Linked DNA regions of Homo sapiens: region 1 is linked to region 2. Evidence: fine-mapped expression QTL. A gene starts in region 2. The other region holds a variant in brackets. All regions are shown on one strand. Distances are between the middles of the regions.

Region 1 (8,000 bases), 30 kb after region 2:
GCCTTCCTGCCACCCTACGAAAGCTCTGGCATACTGGGCCCCACCATTCCCGGGGGCCCTTGTGGATAAGGAACTCCACGGTGGGCTCAGCACAACCACTTCTGCCAGGGCTCTTCAAAGTCAGAGCAGGGAGGGGCTCCATGGAAGGCTGGGTAGTGCCCAAGGCACGGAGCTGGCTGGAGGGGAGTCGCCTCTAGAGTCCCCAAGGGCTGTACAGGGAAGTGGTGGTGCCATAGGGCAGGACCAAGGACTCTCTCCCCAGAGCCAGCCTTACCCCTGGATTGGGTTCTGACCTCAGCTCTGCTCCTGACTCCTCACTTGGCCTCAGTTTCCCCCATCTGTACACTGGGGGTTAGACCAGCCTGTTTGAGAGAGAGGACCCATCTCTGAGTCTCCTCTTCACCCTCCCCATGGCTGGAGAGAAAAGCTCTTGGGTCCCTGGGGAGATAACATGGCCCTTTATGCTTTTCCCAGATGTCCTGGCCACTAAGTTCATAAAAGGAATGCACACGAGGGCCTCATGGGGCCCCAGGGAGCACCAGGGCCTCTCATGGCCCGGCCTGGCCAGGACTTTTGGCCTCACCCTGAACTGTCAGCCCAAGGCAGGGGGACACAGAAACCAGATCCTGAGTCTAGGGCTCTTGGGTATCAGCCCCTGAGCTCAGCACCATCTTTGCCTGCCTGAGCCTTGGCCAGTGTCCAGTCAGCCCCTGCCAAGGCACAGGGAGCTGAGGTGGATGCACCTCTGGCCCAGCCCCCGACGCCTGAGCCACCAGGCAGCTGCAGTCACTGCCAGGTAGAAGAAGACCCCCCCAGGACCCACGCTGTCTGACTGGTCAATGGGTCTGTGGGAAAAGGGAACACCCCACGGGGTAGGCCCCAGCCCCCAGTGGGTACAAATGGCAGTAGGGCATGAGCCAGGGCAATCTCAACCCACTGTCTTCCCTCCCATCCCTGCCCCAGCTTTTCTCTGAGACCCCGAATTTCCTCCTGCTGTTATCTCAGGGGTCCTCCCTAGGGATTTGAACCTCTTTTCAGGGGCACTGAGTTAGCCAAGGCGTTCAGACTCGTGAAAATGGGAGGGGCAGGCAGTGAAAGCGGGGAAGCTGTGGCCCCACCAGATCTGGGCCCAAGCAGAGGAAGAGAGCGCTCCCTCCCACACTGCTGGAGCGCAGCTTGCCACGGTCCTTGGGCAGGGCTGGGGGACTGGACCCCCACCGGAGTCCTGCCTTGGAAGAATGGGGTCCACTCACACCTGCACCCCCTGGCCCTGCAGCTGGAGCACTCGTGCCTGCAGGGCGCTGATCCCGCTGAGGAGGGCCTCTCGATGTTCAGCCAAAGAGATGCCTAGGCTCACCAGGTCCCTGAAACAAAGGCTGGTCACACTCGGCTGGCTTGTCCCCAACTTCTGCTCCTCCCATGAAGGCCCTCCACTCTCCCTCCGCTTCTCTGGACAGGTTGGGACTCCCCAGTATAGGCAGGGGCAGGGCCTGTGGAATCCCCCAGCCCCGGCCTTGACCTTGGTGCCTTGGACTCACTGGGCAGTCATCTCGGCCACGGCCTCCAGGCTCCCATAGCCAGCAGCCGCGAAGCTGTCCTTGTAGCGGCACAGGTCCAGGGCCTCCAGCCACGCGCCCACAGAGCCAAAGGAGGGGAAGGTGGAGAAGGCACGGTCCGCTAGTGGGGTGGGAGGCCTGCGGGTCAGAGGAGCTGTGCTCAACCGACAGCTGGGATCTGGGCCCACACCTGGTGGTCTCCCGGGGAGAGGCCAGCTGAGGATGGACAGGAGAAGGGGAGGGTAACCGGGCCCCAGGGCTGGATCTGGCTCACATGAGCACTGTGCATTCGTGAAGAAGCGAGGGCTTCAGGTTCTTCAGGCAGGTGGAGGCAGAGCCAGCGCCAGCTAAAGGTATTGGCGTATCCGGAACAGTCTGGGGTAGGACACGCCTAGGACTGGTTGGTGACTCATATTGGGAACAACGAATATTAATTTCACATATTTGATTCATTGGAACTACAAATGTGTTAGGGCTATTACCACATCTATTTCTCCAGTCAAAGGTCATTGTACCCGGGGATGTGGGCAAAATCCAGGAGAAGCAGAAGTGACCAGGAGGATGTGCAGTGAGGTGGGCCTGGGCAGGCAGGCAGGCTACAGCCCTCTGGGGCAATGGGGTGAACAATTGCTCTTGGACAGGTGGGGTGGTGGAGGCGGTGGGTTTGCACTTGCAACATGCAGGGAGGCCCTCCACGGACAGGTGAGAGGCTGGCTGTCCCATGTGGGAACGTACCTGGGACAGGTAGTCAGGGCACACTTGGGGGGCTCTGGGTCCTGCACCATCTTGCTCAGGATGCTGTGGATCTGGGAGAACCTGGGCCGCTCACCTGGGTCCTTCTGCCAGCAGTCGAGCATTAGTCGGTGCAGAAGGTTAGGACAGTTCCTGGGGGGTGGCAGCCGGAAGCCATCCTCCACAGCCTTGATCACCTGGGCCACAGGGGTGGGGAGCAGAGAGGAGGCTCTGGGTTTCCCCAGCATATGGTGTGTGCACACACACATGCACACACACAGACACAGACACACACACACACATGCGCACACACAGACACAGACACACACACACACACCCAAGGAAGCCTGGGGCAGTGGCCAGGCAGAACCAGAAGCAAGCAGACAGAGAAGAGGGGCCTGAGGCAGGAAGATTGAGGGCCAACGGGCAGAGGTCAGGAAGCTGGGGCCTGAGCTGAGAGGGTCAGAAGGCATGCAGCTGGAGCCACGGGTTACTCACGTCTTGGCCAGACATGTCCCAGTAAGGCCGCTCCCCAAAGGCCATCACCTCCCACATGATGATGCCGAAGCTCCACACGTCACTGGCAGAGCTGAAGTGGCCAAACTGAAGTGTCTCGGGAGCGGCCCATAGCGCTGGGCTCCGGCCACTCTGTAGGGGCAGGCAGGTCAGGGGCAAGGAGGAACTGGGTGACACGCAGGTTTCCCCACCCCACTGAGCCCCAGATCCAGCCTGCATGTCATCCTCCCAGGCAACCCCCAACTCCAGCTTCACATCTGGGAAAGACAGAAAAGCTGACCTCAAGGTGGGGTTCACTCGCATTTATGCCAAGACCAACTGGGTGGAGGGGCAGGGAAAGGAGTAGAAGTGGGGAGTTAAGGGCTCCAGGGCAGCTTGGTGGGAACCAGAAGGCACAGGCAGGCTTGGCTGGGGGCGCCCTCACCATAGTGGTGTAGACAGCCTCTGATCGGTCCCGGGGGCCCCGCCCGAAGCCAGAGATCTTGCAGACAAGGTCGCTGCTGACCAGCACATGGCGAGCTGCCAGGCCCCGGTGAACGTAGCCCATCTCTGACAGATACTTCATGGCTGATGCCAGCCCAGGCAGCAACCCCATCAGTTGCCCAGCCACCAGCTGCCCCTCGTGCCGCTGTGGAGGGAGAAGACTGAGGCCAGGGCTGTGCGCTTGGATCCCCTGGTGTTGTGTGACACCAGGGCGGTCACCTAGCTCTCGCCAGGCTTTAGTTCACCCTGTGACCACAGGTCAGCCCGGCCAGTGGGGATGATGCCAATTCCAAGCCCTACCAAAGAGAAAAGTGAGGGACCCCTGCCCGCTTTACAGAATAAAGTGGTCATTGGCAGCCCCAGGGCCACTCACCCTGAGGAAGCCGTCCAGGGCCCCATGGCTCATGTACTCGGTGACAATCATCAAGGTGCTTCCTGTGCCCAGGGATGGGAACACACATGCTAAGTTGTCCACTCCACTCCGCACGCACACAAGTTTCCCCCCCAGGGTCCCAGACTGGGCCTCGAGAGCCAGAACCAGCACCAAGCTCCCTAATCTCGCCATCCTCCTGCCCAGCCCAGGGTCCTCTATGCCAAGGAACAAAAGAGGAGACATCTGTAGGTGAACAAAGTCCAAGGTCATGAGCTGCAACAAGCTTGCTAAGAAAGATCACTCTTTCTAGGAGTGATATTCTAGGGGACCTATCACAGGTCAGAAAGGTCATCCTGGCCAGGCGCGGTGGTTCACGCCTGTAATCCCAGCACTTTGGGAGGCCGAGGCAGGTGGATCACGAGGTCAGGAGATCAAGACCATCCTGGCTAACATGGTGAAACCCCGTCTCTACTAAAAAAAAAAAAAAACAAAAAAATTAGCCGGGCCTGGTGGCAGGCACCTGTAGTCCCAGCTGCTCGGGAGGCTGAGGCAGGAGAATGGCATGATCCCAGGAGGCAGAGCTTGCAGTGAGCCGAGATCTCACCACTGCACTCTAGCCTGGGCAACAGAGCGAGACTCCATCTCAAAAAAAAAAAAAAAGAAAGAAAGAAAGAAAAGAAAGGTCATTCTGAGCCAGAGTGGCCGCTCCAGGAGAAGGGCCGCCTTGAGTCAGTGAAAGCTGAGGTCCCTGGCTGAAGCTCCCTCCCATAGCTGAGGGAAGGACCTGGAGAGGCAGGGGCACTCCAAACTCCCACACCATCATTTCCACCCCCCATACCCGTGGGCTGGGCAGCAGGAAGGGAGCACCGGGCCCTACCTCGGGTAACAACGCCCTCCAGCCGCACGATGTGGCTATGGTCAAACTGGCCCAGCGTGAGGGCCTCGGCCAGGAAGCCGAGCCTCTGTGAGTCGGAGGCGCTGTCCCTCAGCAT[A/G]TGCACGGCTACGAGCAGCTCCTGGCGACCGGGGAGCTGCAAGCAGCCACAGCACAGCTCCCCAAACCGCCCTGTGGGGAAACAGCACCTCAGATACCGCCAGAGGCCACTGCCCTGGCTGAGCTGGGCAGGCTGAGCCGAGGAGAAAGTGACTCTGACCAGCCTGGCCAACATGGCGAAACCCAGTCTCTACTAAAAATACAAAAATTAACCAGACAAGGTGGCACATGCCTGTAATCCCAGCTACTTGAGAAGCTGAGGCAGGAAAATCACTTGAACCCAGGAGGCAGAGGTTTCAGTGAGCTGAGATTGTGCCACTGCACTTCAGACTGGGTGACAGAGCAAGACTCGGTCTCAAAAAAAAAAGTGACTCCAGATCATGGACTGTTTCCAGCTTAAATCCTGGTAAACTGAGTACCAGCAGTGTGACCTCGAATTCCATCTCTTTCCTTTTCTTGGCCTGTCTCCTCTGTGAAATGGGGATTCCTCTCTGCCTTCCTCAGTGGGGGGAGGTTTCCAAGCCTTAAAGAAAGGACAGGGCATATGCCAGCACGCCGACTGCCATCAAACCCCATGTGACCCAGGATGGATGACAATGACATCTATTCTTCCACCCTGCCCCTTTCCGGCTTCTGTCCAGCGGGTCTGGAGACAGTGTCAGGGGATAATGTCAGGCTCCCAGTGAAAGCAGCTACCGTCTCTGAGCACAGGAGGCTGAGGATTTGTAGTCAGGAAGAAAGGCTAGCAGAAGACTGGCCCTTAGAGAGCAAGCGCCGACAGCCAGGCCCTGTGAGGAGTGCTGGGAGTTCCCCACATTAGCCCCCAGAAGGCAGATATCATGCCCATTTCTCAGATGAGAAACTGAGGCTCTGAGCAAAACAGGGCCATGACCCTGATCATGCAGCGGGTCAGTGGGAGAGCCAGGACTAGAACTCAGTTATGTCTGGCCCCTAAGCTTGCAAAGGCCCCTCCCCACTGCCCCATGAAGGCCTGGGACTAAACTGCCAGTGGCAGTGTGCAGAGGTCTGACCTTGAGGACCAGGAGAGGGTCACAGACCCTTCTGCCATCCTCTTCCCTATAATCAGGCAAGCCAGGGACTTTCTGGGTGGAGGGTGGGCTTGGTGTGGAGGCAGGGCTTCCAGACACGAGCAGAGACCTGGGTGGAGGTGGGCTTCAGGATAGAGGTGTGGACAGAGTAGGGGCGGGGCCTATAGAGTGGGTGAGGCTTCCAGATGGGGACAAGGCTTCCTGGGCGCCCAGCTTGCCTCCTCCAAGGCTCCTCTCCAGCGTGACGCTTTTCGCATCCAGTTCCTTGGCGAACAGATGCACAGCCTGCAGCAGGTCCCCACAGCTCTGGGGGTCCAGGAATGTGCGACGTGTTGGGACTTTGACTGGGAGAGAAAGAGATGAGCCTGAGGAATGGGGCCTCCACCACTGGGGCTGACAAGCGGGCTCATGCAGTGTAGCAAGGCAGAGGGCTGAGGAGTGAGGCAGGGTGGAGCCCGCCCCTCCCCAGCCAGGCCCAGCCAACTCACAGTGGAAATACAGCTCCTCTTCATCATGGGCATCCCCTCCTCCTTTGCCATAGCTGCAGGGCCTGGCAGGGAGTTCAGGGTCATTCTTTCAGCCAGGCCACCCCGGCCCTTCCCATTACAGAGCACTGAGGGCAGCACCTCTTTGTCCCTTCAAAAGACAAGGCCTGTGCCCTGGGGGAGGGAACTTCTTGTCCAGCTGGTTTAAAAGCTTCTCTGTGGTTTGACGACCTCCCCATGGCACAGATACAACCGTAGCCCTAGACCAAACCGTCACCACCACCACCATCCCTAGCTACTTTCACATGGTGAAAATTATTGCAACTCCAGAGGCACCCAATCCACATCCTGGCTGCAGGCCCCCAGCTGCCCCCGCATGCGGTTTTGTGAAAGTGTGAATAAGGCAAGCGGATCCAGCACTCGGGGGCAGCTTCTGGTCTGGTCAGGAAAACAAACATGGAGAGTTAGCCACAAGCCCACTCACCAGTGCTGGCAAAGGAGAAAGGTGCTGTACTGTTGGGACACGGGACAGACAGGCCTGACCTGATCCAAGGTCATTGTGGAGGGCTTCCTGAGACAGAGGCAGCCACGGGCCAAAGGACTGCATCACAGTCAACAAAGCCACAGGCCGGTACTTGGGGCCCCTAGGGGCAGGGCCTTGCTGGCCAAGATAAAGACTTTGGCTTTTATTCTGGGAGCAGAGGAGAGCCCCTGTGGGGTTGAAGCAGAGGAGTGCAATGATTTGATTTCTACTTTAGAAAGAGCTCCAGTTGCAGAGTGGAAGCTGCCACGGGTGTCACCACAGGAGAGGAGCTGGCAGTGGTTCTAGCTATGGGGTCAACATGGGCATGGAGAGAGGCAGAGGACTCGAGTGACATGAAGGTGACAGGGGCCACAGGGCTGAGAGGTTGTTGGATGGCAGAAAGGAAGAGGGAGAAGTTGCCCACAGTTTATGGTGGTGCCATTTACTGGGATGAGGAGACAAAAAGTTCACATTTAGACATCTGAGTTTGCAGGCCTGGGGGATAAGCAGGGAAGATAAGACGGGCGTTCGACGTGTGTGTGTGTGTCTGGAGCTTGGAAGAGAGGCCTGCTCTGCAGATACAAATCAGGAGCAATGAGCATGGCCCAGGGAGAGGATGGAGTCTGAGAAGAGGGACTAGGAATAAGTCTGAGAAACCCCAACATCTAGGCTAGCGGAAGGAAGCACCAAGGACAGTACAAAAGAATCGCCAGAGGAACAGAAGGAGAGCAGAGGGAAACTGGGGCAGGGTATCACAGGGACCAAGGACAGAGAAAGTAGAGGGGATGGTAGAGAGAAATCACATAAAGGTACAAGGATGAGAGACCAAGGGAGGAGTTTCCGAAGTTTTCACAACAGAGATGATCACATGTAGATACAGATGGGAAGGAGGAGCTAGGCTGTCACACAGGGGGAAGCGGCCACCGCAGGGTGTTGACAGCCTGGGCTCGGAACCTGACTGCAGGGACCTGCTTCCCAGCATCTCCGCTCGGTAGCTGTGGGACTGGGTGGCTCCATTTTCTCTTTAATAAAATCAGGATAAAGATAGGCCTGCCAGACAGCAGCATGTCAGCTTACCAAGCCTCCACACATGTTCACTGTTATGGGGGGCAGAGGGGAACATTAGGAGTAATAGTGGGCTCCCAAGATGGCAAAAGGGTGGGGTTCAGCCATAGGTGGAAGGACTGATCCTGGCTGGGAGGATCACCTCCTCTAGAGAAAAGGGGGTGAGGATGGGTGCAGAAGCAGGCAGGTTTGTAGGTTTGGTGGTGAGTAGTCCAGGGGCCAGTGAT
Region 2 (11,221 bases):
GAGACGGCGTTTCACCATGTTGCCCAGGCTGGTCTCAAACTCTCGGGCTCAAGCAGTCCTCCCACCTCAGCTTCCCAAAGGGCTGGGATTACAGGTGTGAGCCACCACGCCCAGACCCCAAATTCTTTCAAAGACCTTCAAGGCCCTAGAAAGTCGAGCCCCCTGTCTTTCTACCCTCACCTGCTGTTAGGCTCCTCCTCATGCTCCAGTCTAGCCTCCTTACTATTTCCTGAATAGACCAGGAATGTTCTTACCACAAGGCCTTTGCATTTGATGTTTCCTCTGCCTAGTAACTTTCTCTCCCCAAATAGCCACATAGCTCTTTCCCTTACCCTCTTCAGATCTCTGCTCAAATATCACTTTCTCATGAAGCCTGCTCTGACCACCCTATTTTAAATCACAACTCCACCCTCACTCCTCACTTTCCCTGCTTTATTTTTCTCCATAACACTTATCGCCATTCAGCATTCTACTTGCCTTTTTCAATGCCTGTCTCTTTGCACCAAGAACAGTGCCTGACAGGTAGTAGCTACTCGATAAATTATTAGAGGAAGGATTATACAAAGGAATGCAGGAAGAATCCAAGTTCAGGAACCAAAGAGAACTGACTCAAACTACTTAGTTTTCCAATCTTGTGAAAACTGAAATTTGAAAGACTTAGAACAGCTCTGGCTGTGACCTGAAATGTGTGCAAAGGATACGACTTTCGATAATGTCTCTCAATATCCTGCAACCATTCCAACATGTCAGCCACAGAGGGGCTCACTGCTGAAGGCTGCAGGACAGCATCAATGCCAACTGTGTCTGCGTGTTGCTCATAGATCTGAAACACTCGCTCCACATGGCTGCTGACCATGTCTCGCACCTTGAGGAGGATGGCTCTGCAAGAAAGAGTCTGACATTAGGCAATATCATGAGACATGTATAAAGGAAGGTTTCTCAATTTTGGCACTACTGATATTTTGGACTACATGATTCTCTGTTGTGAAGGGCTGCCCTGTACATTGTAGGACGTGTAGGAGCATGCCTGGCCCCTACCCACTAAATGACAGGTGTAAACTATACCTATACCCTCCATAAGCCATAACAACCAATAATGCCTCTAGATGATGCCAAATGTCCCCTCATAGAAAAACCATCTCCAATTGAGACCACTGGTCTAAGGAGATTAGTGACAGTGTCTTGGAGGTACGGGTGGCTCAAGAATCAAGAAAGGGGCTGGGTGCAGAGGCTGTTGCCTGTAATCCCAGCTTTGGGAGGCTGAGCGGGGTGGATCACCTGAGGTCAGGAGTTTGAGACCAGCCAATGTCCCAAAACCCCGTCTCTACTAAATATACAAAAATTAGCCAGGTGTGGTGGTGCACACCTGTAGACCCAGCTACTCGGGAGGCACGAGAATCACTTGAACCCAGAGGCAGAGGTTGCAGTGAGCCAAGTTCGCGTCACTGCACTTCAACCTGGGTGACAGAGCGAGACTCCGTCTCAAAAGTGTGTGTGTGTGTGTGTGTGTGTGTGTGTGTGTGTGTGTGTGTGTGTGTGTATAGTTTTTGTTTTTGTTTTTTGTTTTTTTATTGAGATGGAGTTTCGTTCTTGTCGCCCAGGCTGGAGTGCAATGGTGCGATCTTGGCTCACCACAACCTCTGGCTCCCGGGTTCAAGTGATTCTCCTGCCTCAGCCTCCTGAGTAGCTGGGATTACAGGCATGCGCCACCACACCCGGCTAATTTTGTATTTTTTTTTCAGTAGAGACGGGGTTTCTCCATGTTGGTCAGGCTGGTCTCGAACTCCCGACCTCAGGTGATCCACCTACCTCGGCCTCCCAAAGTGTTAGGATTACAGGCATGAGCCACCGTGCCCAGCTAATATATATTTTTTTTTAATTAAAACATTTAAAAAAAAAAACAGGTGCAGTGGCATGCCTGTAATCCCAGTAGTTTGGGAGGGCAAGGCCAGAGGACAGCTTGAAGCCAGGAATTTGAGACCAGCCTGGGCAATATGGCAAGACTATCTCCACAAAAAATTTTAAAAATTAGCTAGGTATGGTGGCATGCTCTTGGAATCCCAGCTACTCAGGAGGCTGGCAGGAGGAGTTAGAGGCTACAGTAAGCTATGATCATACCGCTGCACTTCAGCCTGGGCAACAGGGTGAGACTGTCTCTAAAAATAAAATAAAAATAAATAAAAGACAAAATATTAAGTAAAGCACTCATAGGTACTCACAGCACTCCTGGGTTCAAATGATCCTCTTGTCCTTAGCCTCTCAAAGTGCTGGGATTACAGGAGTGAGGCACCGTACCTGGCCTCATCTTTTTTTTGTTTTGCTTTCCTTTTCATGGAGAATGGGATCTCACTATGTTGCCCAGGCTGGTCTCAAACTTCTAGGCTCAAGCGATCCTCCTGCCTCAGCCTCCCTAAGTGCTGGGATTACAGGCTGAGCTGCCATACCCAGCTGATCTCATCTCTTACCAGGCCTCTGCTCCTGTCATACTTTTCTCTCTTTTTTTGAGACAGAGTCTTGCTCTGTCACCCAGGCTGGAGTGCAGTGGGACAGTCTTGGCTCACTGCAACCTCTGCCTCCCAGGTCCAAGAGATTCTCCTGCCTCAGCCTCCCCTTTAGCTGGGACTACAGGTGTGTGCCACGACAGCCAGTTAACTTTTTTTATTTTTAGTAGAGATGGTGTTTCACCATGTTGGCCAGGCTGGTCTCGAACTCCTGACCTCAAGTGATCTGCCTCCCAAAGTGCTGGGATTACAGCCATAAGCCACCGTGCCGGGCCAGTCATACTATTCTCTATGCACACTACTCATACCCACGTCTTGACTCTGTTTACATCTTTTCAACCATTAGGTTTTTAATATCACTTCCTCCCCAGAAACTTCCCCACTCCACACAAGCCGTACTTATCAATATCTTAGGACATCCCACAATTTAATTCACTGATTGTTTATTTCTTCTACTCAACTAAGAACAGGAACTAAATCTGGTTCATTTTTATATTCTTGGCACCTTGTGCTTGGCATCCCACAAGGTGCCTAATGAACGTATTTTGTACAAATAAATAAAAGGAAAGTCCTCATCTGTGACAGTTTCCTATTAGTCTATGACAGACTCTATATACTGGAACTTTCTTTTGTTCCAGTTCAAGGAAAGGCCACACATGCCCTGTCTCCCCTCTGTCCTCAATAACCTGTAACTCTCAGCCTGGGCAACATAGTGAGACCCTATCTCTACAAAAAATTTTAAAATTAGCTGGGCATGGAAGTGCACGCTTGTTGTCCCAGGTACTTGGGGGGCTGAGGTGGGAGGATCGCTTGAACCAGGGAAATCGAGGCTACAATGAGCTGTGATTGTGCCACTGCACTCCAGCCTGAGTGACAGAGCAAGACCCTGTCTCAAAAAAAAAAAAAAAAAAAAATCTGTAACGCAGGCACTGGGTCTGACAACAAGCATATCAGAACTTGGAGACGTGCTACTCCTGGGCACAGAGACACCAATCTACAGCAGAACAAAGTGGTGATTAAGAGCTCTAGCCTTTGTGTCAGGCACACTTGAGTTAGAATCCCAGCTCTACCCTTTTCTAGCTGCGTCACCATGGGCAATCTGCTTAAGCTTCAGTTTCCTACCTGCATAGAATTAAGTGCAGTTAAGTCACAGATATGTTGAAGAGACTTTATAACGTAATATACATAAACCCCTTAGCTCTAGCACCTACTAAGTTTACACAGCTCCTCACTGCCTTTTACCAAAGAAAACTATAGGGCAGAGCTAATAGGCTTTCTCCGCTCCTTTTCTCTTCTTCTTTTGTGACTTCTACTAAGCCCACCACTGCCATGCCTAGTCTCTGACAAAGAAAATGCCAGAAAATGGCTTTCTGACCGAGGTCCCACTGCCCCAGATGAAGTAAGGAAGGTTGAGATACCTCCACATGCCACGCTTTCAAGGAGAAAAACACCTTCTGGACTGACACTAGCTACATATAAAACACCTCGTTTTAAAATCCTTCCACCAAGAAACAGCACTAGGGAGCTGCTTACAGCCTTTCCCCTAGCTTGTCCAGGACGATGTCACCAGCCACCAGCTGCTTACGCCTCAGCCGCTCTTTTAAATCTGGGAAGGCCCGAAGCGCCGGCACATCCTCAAACCGCAGGTTCTGTGCGGCCTGCAGCTGTTCCGCCAGGTTGCTGAGGGAGGACAGGAGGGGCTGGCAGTCCCGCAGGGCACTCTGCCACAGGCCCTGCTGCTCCTCCACCACGGGGAAGCACTTCTTCAGCGCCTCCTGCACGGCAAGCAGAGGCCGGTCTTGAGTCATCTTCTGCTGAAAAAGATAAAAACAGAAAATAACCACGTTGGGGTGCCAAGTCAGTCGGGGAGGCACTGGGTCGAGGGTGGGCGTCATCTCTGTTATCGTGTTCAGACAGGAGTTGTCTCACCTCCAGAAGCAGGGTTTTTTTTTTGTTTTTTTTTCGAGACGGAGTCTCACTGTCGCCCAGGCTGGAGTGCAGTGGCGCTATCTCGGCTCACTGCAACCTCCGCATCCCGGGTTCAAGCAATTCTCCTGCCTCAGCCTCCCGAGTAGCTGGGAATACAGGTGCCCGCCAACACGCCTGGCTAATTTTTGTATTTTTAGTAGACGGGGTTCCTGACCTCAGGTGATCCGCCCGCCTCGGTCTTCCAAAGTGCTGGGATTACAGGCGTGAGCCACCGCGCCCGGCCTGCCTCAGCTTTCTGAAGGAGACCCTGGTTTCCCCTCGGGAAGGGTAACCTGGATAGGGCAGTCTCCTGCTTCAGAGGATTCCTGGCGTCCAAGCGCCGTCTCTTCTCTGACATACAGTCCTGTCTCCCCTGCCCGAGGCTGCCGGTCGCCTTCCTGAAAAAGCGGAAAAACTTAAAAGTCCAGACAGCCAAAGCGTGAGAACCCTCCAGGGACTGCACCACGCGCCCACAGTCTCTCTGCGCATGCTCACACGCGACCTCCCCACAAAGCTACTCCGCGGGCCTGCCTGGCTACTGAGTCGCGAAAATATATCGTAGTGCCGCAATGACTTCTGGGTACTGTAGTCCAACATGTGGACTGGCCACTCGGCTTGAAGCTTCCTTGGGATTGGATGTTGGGACCGTCCAAACACGGCGACTTCTCATTTGTCAGCCTGCGGCAGTTTAAATTGGGTGGCGGTGGTGGCATGTCCTGTTAGCTGTGGAGTCTTTTCCTCTTATCTTGCGCCTCCGGTTGTGCCTTAATGACACTTTTGACATTGTGTATCACAACCAACTGGCAAAAACTAGTAAATCACGGGCTCCTGACGTGGCAGCTCTGGCTAAAATGCAGGTGGACGTCCTAGGTGCCCAGGGAGTTCGGGCTCACTGGGGAGTAGGGTGAAGGAAACCCTGAAACCGAGAGGCTGGAAGCCCGACTTGCGCAGCATAAAAACACCTGCAGGGGGAAAGCCTACATGAGGTACGGGTTGTCATCCCGTCTCATCTTGGCCATCTGACTGATGGAGATCCTCAGGCACCCAGCAGACTGGGGTGTCACCCCCACTACCCACTGCCCAGGGCTGACCTCGGGCGGAAGAGCGACATTCAAATATTTGTTGCATATGGAGCAACAGACCAGGGTGGAAGAGAGAGAAAGGACTTTCCAGGAAGGTCCAGGCTTGCCAGGACTTCTATGCTTGGACTGCTCTGTCCCCAAGCTCGCTGGTGCCCATCAGGAGCCTGCTTGGCACCTTTGCTTATTTCTTCGATTGTTCCTCAACTCAGAGGGGGAGAGGCAAGATTATCACTCCCATAGCCTATAACATGCACGCTTAAACACAACCCCTCTGACATGGCTTCAGACCGCATCCACAGGTGAAAAGCACCAAATCCAAACAATCAGGCCACAAACCCGTCAAGAGCTCGCCGGTCTGGCCGTCCAGTCGCCGCCCGCCTTGAGACTCAGCCTGAGCTACAGCTTCGAAACTAGCCTCTAGCCTTCTGGGTCTCAGCACAACTCTTGAGCAATCCAACCCTGTGGCCGTGGGCAGATACCAAGATGCACAGTTAGCACCTCCGACAGGACCGCGGCTCGGCGGGGCTCGCCGTCTACACGCCCATTCCCAGGCCCACGGCCACGACACCCAGAGCTGCCTCCTGCCCTGGGCTCCCTGGAGCCTGGTGGCCGCGGCTCATGCTGCAGTCACCGTGTGGCCAGCTGCCAAGCGCCACTACTTGCACCTGAAGTCGCAGCCCCGCGCTGCGCACCCAGTCGAGGCGCCAACACGCGAACTGGGCGGGAGTGGCCGGCCCGCGGGGGAGCGAGGAACGACAGGGTTCCCCCCACTCGCTGCCCAGACTGGCCGCGGGATAGCGCGCCCCCCCCAAAGCCTGCACCCCTGCCCTGCTCCTCTATCATTCCGTCCCCCTTGCTCTGTCAAACCCTGCCGGGGCTGCTCTGTCTCTGCCGACCCGCCACTTGCCCGAAGTTCGGCCTGAGGAGCTTGGGGCCCTGAGGAGCGCCGACGTAGGCAGCCAGCCAGTCAATCAGTCAGAGGGTCACGGCGGCCCCTCGGCTACTCAGTGGCAGCCAGGCCAGAAAGAAGCAGCCGCCAACCCTGGAGCAGAATCCTACAGCCGACCTGACCTAGTAGGCCCCCAGCCCTCCAGAGCTTGGGGTATTGCAGAGCCGCCACAAGGCCTGCCGGGAGTAGTAGTTTGTATAGTTCGCAGCCGGCCAGGGCGGAGCCGGGTGGGTTGGTGGGGAGGGCGGGGAAACAAGCCTGGACCACAACTCCCAGGAGTACCCGCGACGGCGGCGGCCTCGCTGTCGCACTCAGGCTATAGGGGGCGCATTGGGCGGAAGACCCTGGGCCGGCAGGAACTTGCTTGTGATTGGATGTTGTGGGACGGCGGCTTCTCATTCGTCAGCCTGTGACTGTGGAGTTTGAATTGGGTGGCGGTTGACTGTAGAGCCGCTCTCTCTCACTGGCACAGCGAGGTTTTGCTCAGCCCTTGTCTCGGGACCGCAGGTACGTGCCTGGCGACTTCTTCGGGTGGTCCCCGTCCGCCCTCCTCGTCCCTACCCAGTTTCTTGCTTCCCTGCCCCATCTCCGCCGCTCCCCGCAGCCTCCGCCGAGCGCCATGGCTCCTAGGAAGGGCAGTAGTCGGGTGGCCAAGACCAACTCCTTACGGAGGCGGAAGCTCGCCTCCTTTCTGAAAGACTTCGACCGTGAAGGTAAGGGGCCAGGCCGTCGCGGCCTCCTGGGGCGGTCGCGGGATGCTGGCGGGTGGGGACACGAGCTGCACAGATTCGCCCGCCCGTGACCCGTGTCCTGTCGGCTCTGCCCTCCCGCAGTGGAAATACGAATCAAGCAAATTGAGTCAGACAGGCAGAACCTCCTCAAGGAGGTGGATAACCTCTACAACATCGAGATCCTGCGGCTCCCCAAGGCTCTGCGCGAGATGAACTGGCTTGACTACTTCGGTAAGAGCTGGAGAGCTTCCCTGGGCGGAGGCCAGGAGCCCCTTGGGGTTAGGTGACACCCTTCAGAAAGGGCTCGCTCAGATGTCACCTTTTAATGAGATCTGACATGACCACTTATGGAAAATTGCAGACCCTTTCACTCTCTGTCTCACTTCCCTACTTCATTTTTCTCTATGAAAAATGGGGGGGTGGTTGGGGGGCGGCGGGCGGGGCGGTCTCTGTCGGACAACTCAGCTCTGCTGTTTACAGGTCCAAAACAGCTGTAGTGAATGGGCATGGATGGGCTGTATTCCAATAAAATTTTAGTTATGGATACACTGAAATGTGAATTTCACATAATTTTCACACATCAGGAAATTTATTTAATTTTTTTTAAACAGAGTCTCACTCTGTCACCCAGGCTGGAGTGCAGTGCAGTGCAGTGGTGCGATCCCTGCTCACTGCAACCTCCACCTTCTGGGTTCAAGTGATTCTCCTGCCTCAGCCTCTGGAGTGGCTGGGATTACGGTCGCCTGCCACCATGCCCCGCTGATTTTTGTATTTTCAGTAGAGACGGGGTTTCACCATGTTGGCCAGGCTGGTCTCGAACTCCTGACCTCAAGTGATCCACCTACATAGGCCTCCCAAAGTGCTGGGATTACAGGAGTCAGCCACTGCGCCCGGCCAGAAAATAGTATTTTTAAAAATATATGTATATTTTACCCATTTAAAAATGAATGAATAAATGACATGGTTAGTTAACCAGAGCTCAGATAGAAGAATAACCCGAAGCAGCTCCTTCTGCAGCTTATGGAAATTGCTAACCTAAAAATGGGCGCATCAGGCTGGGCGTGGTGGCTCACGCCTGTAATCCCAGCACTTTGGGAGGCTGAGGCGGGCAGATGACCTGAGGTCAGGAGTTCGAGACCAGCCTGACCAACATGGAGAAACCCTGTCTCTACTAAAAATACAAAAAAGTTAGCCGGGCGTGGTGGCGCATACCTCTAATCCCAGCTACTCTGGAGGCTGAGGCAGGACAATCGCTTGAACCTGGGAGGCAGAGGTTGCGGTGAGCTGAGAGCACGCCATTGCACTCCAGCCTGGGCAACAAGAGTGAAACTCCGTCTCAAAAAAAAAGACACATCAGTTTTCCTGGCCAGAGAAAAATCCCAGCCTGTTTCTGCACTCCCTTATTAAATGTCCGGAGAAATGCAGGAGGCTGTACTTTTCTGCTGGGTTGCCCTTTTCTGTTTTCCTTATTATTAACTATCCAGCATGTAGTCTCCTTCCTGGATAGAAATGCATGGTCTGCTCACATATTAGACATTGAATGATCCTTTTGACTTGCCCTTTTATTTATTAAGCCATTCATTTGCTTATTTCTCCAAATACTGAGCATGTGTCAGTCACAGTGCTAGGTGCTAAAGATGCACTAGGGAATAAAACAGACATTGTCTCTGCCTTCAGGAACATACAGATTAGTAGAAAAGAGCTATTAGAAAAATCCACATACAATTATGTAATTAAAAGTATAGGTACTACAAAGGAGATAGAATAGAGTAGTGGTCAGTGAGCATATTGTGCTTTCTATGCCAGATGGGCATTGTACCAAGTGTTTTACATACATTAACTAATTTTTCTTCATAACTAATAATATCCCTATTTTTCAAAATGACAAGATTAAGGCACAGAGAAATTGGACACTTTGCTCAAGGCCTCATAAGCTAGTTAGTGGGATAGTCTGTTTGAACCCAGGTATTCTGGTTTCATAGCCTGAGATCTTAACTGTTTTACAAGATACTATGAGAGTTTCTAGCAGGAGGTTCTAACCTAACTTTTTATTCTACATGTAAATCTCACAAAGACCTTTTCATTCAACACGTTTACTGTACATCTATTGACTGCTAGATTTTTGCCAGAAGCAAAGGATGTCATCTCTGGAATTCAGTCCAAGGCAGGGATGGACATTTAAACAGCTTTGAGTAGTTATTGGGTATAATGAGGGTGAGCAACTAACTCTACACTTTGCAGCAAACTGCTGAGATAGAAAAATAAGCAGGCTGGGCACAGTGGCTCACCTGGAATTCCAGCACTTTGGGAGGCCAAGGCAGGTGGATTACTTGAGCCCAGGAATTTGAGACCAGCCTGGGCAACATAACAAGACCATATCTTTAAGCTTTAAAAAAAATAATTAAAAATAAATTTTTAAAAAAGAAAAATAAGCAGAGGGCAGGGCATAGGGTGGGGATTCATGCCTATAATCCTAGCACTTTGGGAGGCCAAGGCAGGAGTATCACTTGACCCCAGGAGTTCAAAACCAGCCTGGGCAACATAGCAGGAGACCACATCTCTACTTAAAAAAAAAAAAAAAAAAAAAAAAGACAACCTGGACAACTTGGCGAAACCCTATCTCTACAAAAAAACACAAAAATTAGCCGAATGTGGTGGCGCATGCCTGTAGTCCCAGCTACTTGGGAGGCCAAGGTGGGAGGATCAGTTGAGCCCAGGAGACAGCCAAGGAGGCGCCACTCCACTCCAGCTTGGGTGACAGAGCAAGACTCTGTCTCAAAAATAAATAAAATTTAAAATATATTTTTTAAAAAGAAAAATAAGCAGAATTTTTGGGGTGATGTTTGAGCTGAGTTTTGAAGGATGAGTTAGAAATTTGTTAAGTACGGAGGTGAATTTCAGGCAGAGGAAATACAAAGTACCATGGCAACAAGTCATGAGAGTCAGTGGCACATTTGGGATATAACTTGGAGAAAGAATAGATTAGATGGTGAAGGTCCTTGAAGGTTAGACCAAGGGCTGGACCAGTTTTAGAAAGATAAATGGTACTATTAGGCAAGATGATTTATTGTTAAAATGTAATAGTAACTACAACGTTCTTTTTAAAGCCCTTGGAGGAAACAAACAGGCCCTGGAAGAGGCGGCAACAGTAAGTGACCTTTCCTATTTTCCAGCCAGTGGTTACTTAAGTCTAGTCCAGTCCCCAGATCCAACTAATAGATGCTTACTGTGGAAGAGGTTTCATAAAGGGACATCATCTGTTTGTGTCAACTGAAAAATTAGAGTTGGACCAGACACTGTATACATGAGACCCAGATAGTTCTGAGCCCTACAGAAGGTGGCAGTTCTGTTTTTGACCAATTTCTTGCAGTCCTTTGTTCTGAACTCTACAGCGGAAGTAGAAAGCCTCAAGCCCAAGTTCCTTTAAGCGCCTGAGTCATTACACTATGCATTGGCCTGCTAGATGATAAAGGTGTTTCATCATGTCGTACTGTAGAAGCAGTGCTTTTGCTTGGGATGCTCAGTATTCCCCAACCCCTCTCATCTCCTTCCTCCCAGCATCAGTGCCAGGATTGAAGGCAGTAAGATGGGGATGCAAAATAGAGCATTTAAAGCTGCACTGTCCAGTGTAGTAGCCACTGGGCATATGTAGCTATTTCAGTTAATTACAATTAATAAAATTAAAGAATTCATTTCCTCAGACATACTAGCCACATTTTACATGTTCAATACCTACATATGACTAGTAGCTACTCCATCAGAGAGCACAGAAATAGAACATTGCTACTCTTGCAGAAAGTTTTATGAGACAGCATTGGGAACTAGTCCATACATGGGCTTCACAGAGTCCCTAGGCACTCTAAAATAATATACAAACAATGCGTGTGTATGCACGCATTTGTGTATCTTTCTGTTAGTTTATTGTAGCCTTGATCAGATTTACAAAGTAAACCCCAAAATTACATCTTTTGTTGAGTTGATCAGAATCAT

Which allele goes with the higher level. Alleles are on the strand shown, and positions count from the first base shown. SD is a standard deviation of normalised expression in the study named.
For the expression in lymphoblastoid cells of the gene that starts at base 4,958 in region 2, allele A in region 1 goes with a lower level than allele G (small effect, 0.30 SD a copy in GTEx).

What was found. PIP is the estimated chance that this variant, and not a neighbour inherited with it, causes the effect.
Region 1: its variant is the best candidate, but not a certain one, in a credible set for the expression of AIRIM in lymphoblastoid cells (GTEx, PIP 0.76).

Annotation. Positions count from the first base shown.
Region 1 is chr1:37,717,123-37,725,122 of GRCh38, forward strand. EPHA10 (EPH receptor A10) reads right to left here. Exons shown (of 17, transcript NM_001099439.2): 9 at 6,189-6,250; 10 at 5,919-6,044; 11 at 4,538-4,723; 12 at 3,661-3,722; 13 at 3,229-3,432; 14 at 2,787-2,936; 15 at 2,292-2,485; 16 at 1,539-1,694; 17 at 1-1,364. The coding sequence ends at 1,250. Among named protein-coding and RNA genes, the nearest start is that of CDCA8, 29 kb to the left of the region's middle. The variant A/G (reference allele first, on the strand shown) is at 4,653.
Region 2 is chr1:37,685,572-37,696,792 of GRCh38, forward strand. AIRIM (AFG2 interacting ribosome maturation factor) reads right to left here and starts at 4,958. Exons shown (of 5, transcript NM_001350770.2): 1 at 4,431-4,958; 2 at 4,035-4,312; 3 at 702-881. The coding sequence starts at 4,309. CDCA8 (cell division cycle associated 8) reads left to right here and starts at 6,945. Exons shown (of 10, transcript NM_001256875.2): 1 at 6,945-7,213; 2 at 7,334-7,462; 3 at 10,339-10,379. The coding sequence starts at 7,120. RefSeq lists enhancers at 4,111-4,220, 4,291-4,350, 4,931-5,120, 5,686-6,196, 6,197-6,706 and 3 more and silencers at 5,999-6,058, 6,079-6,248.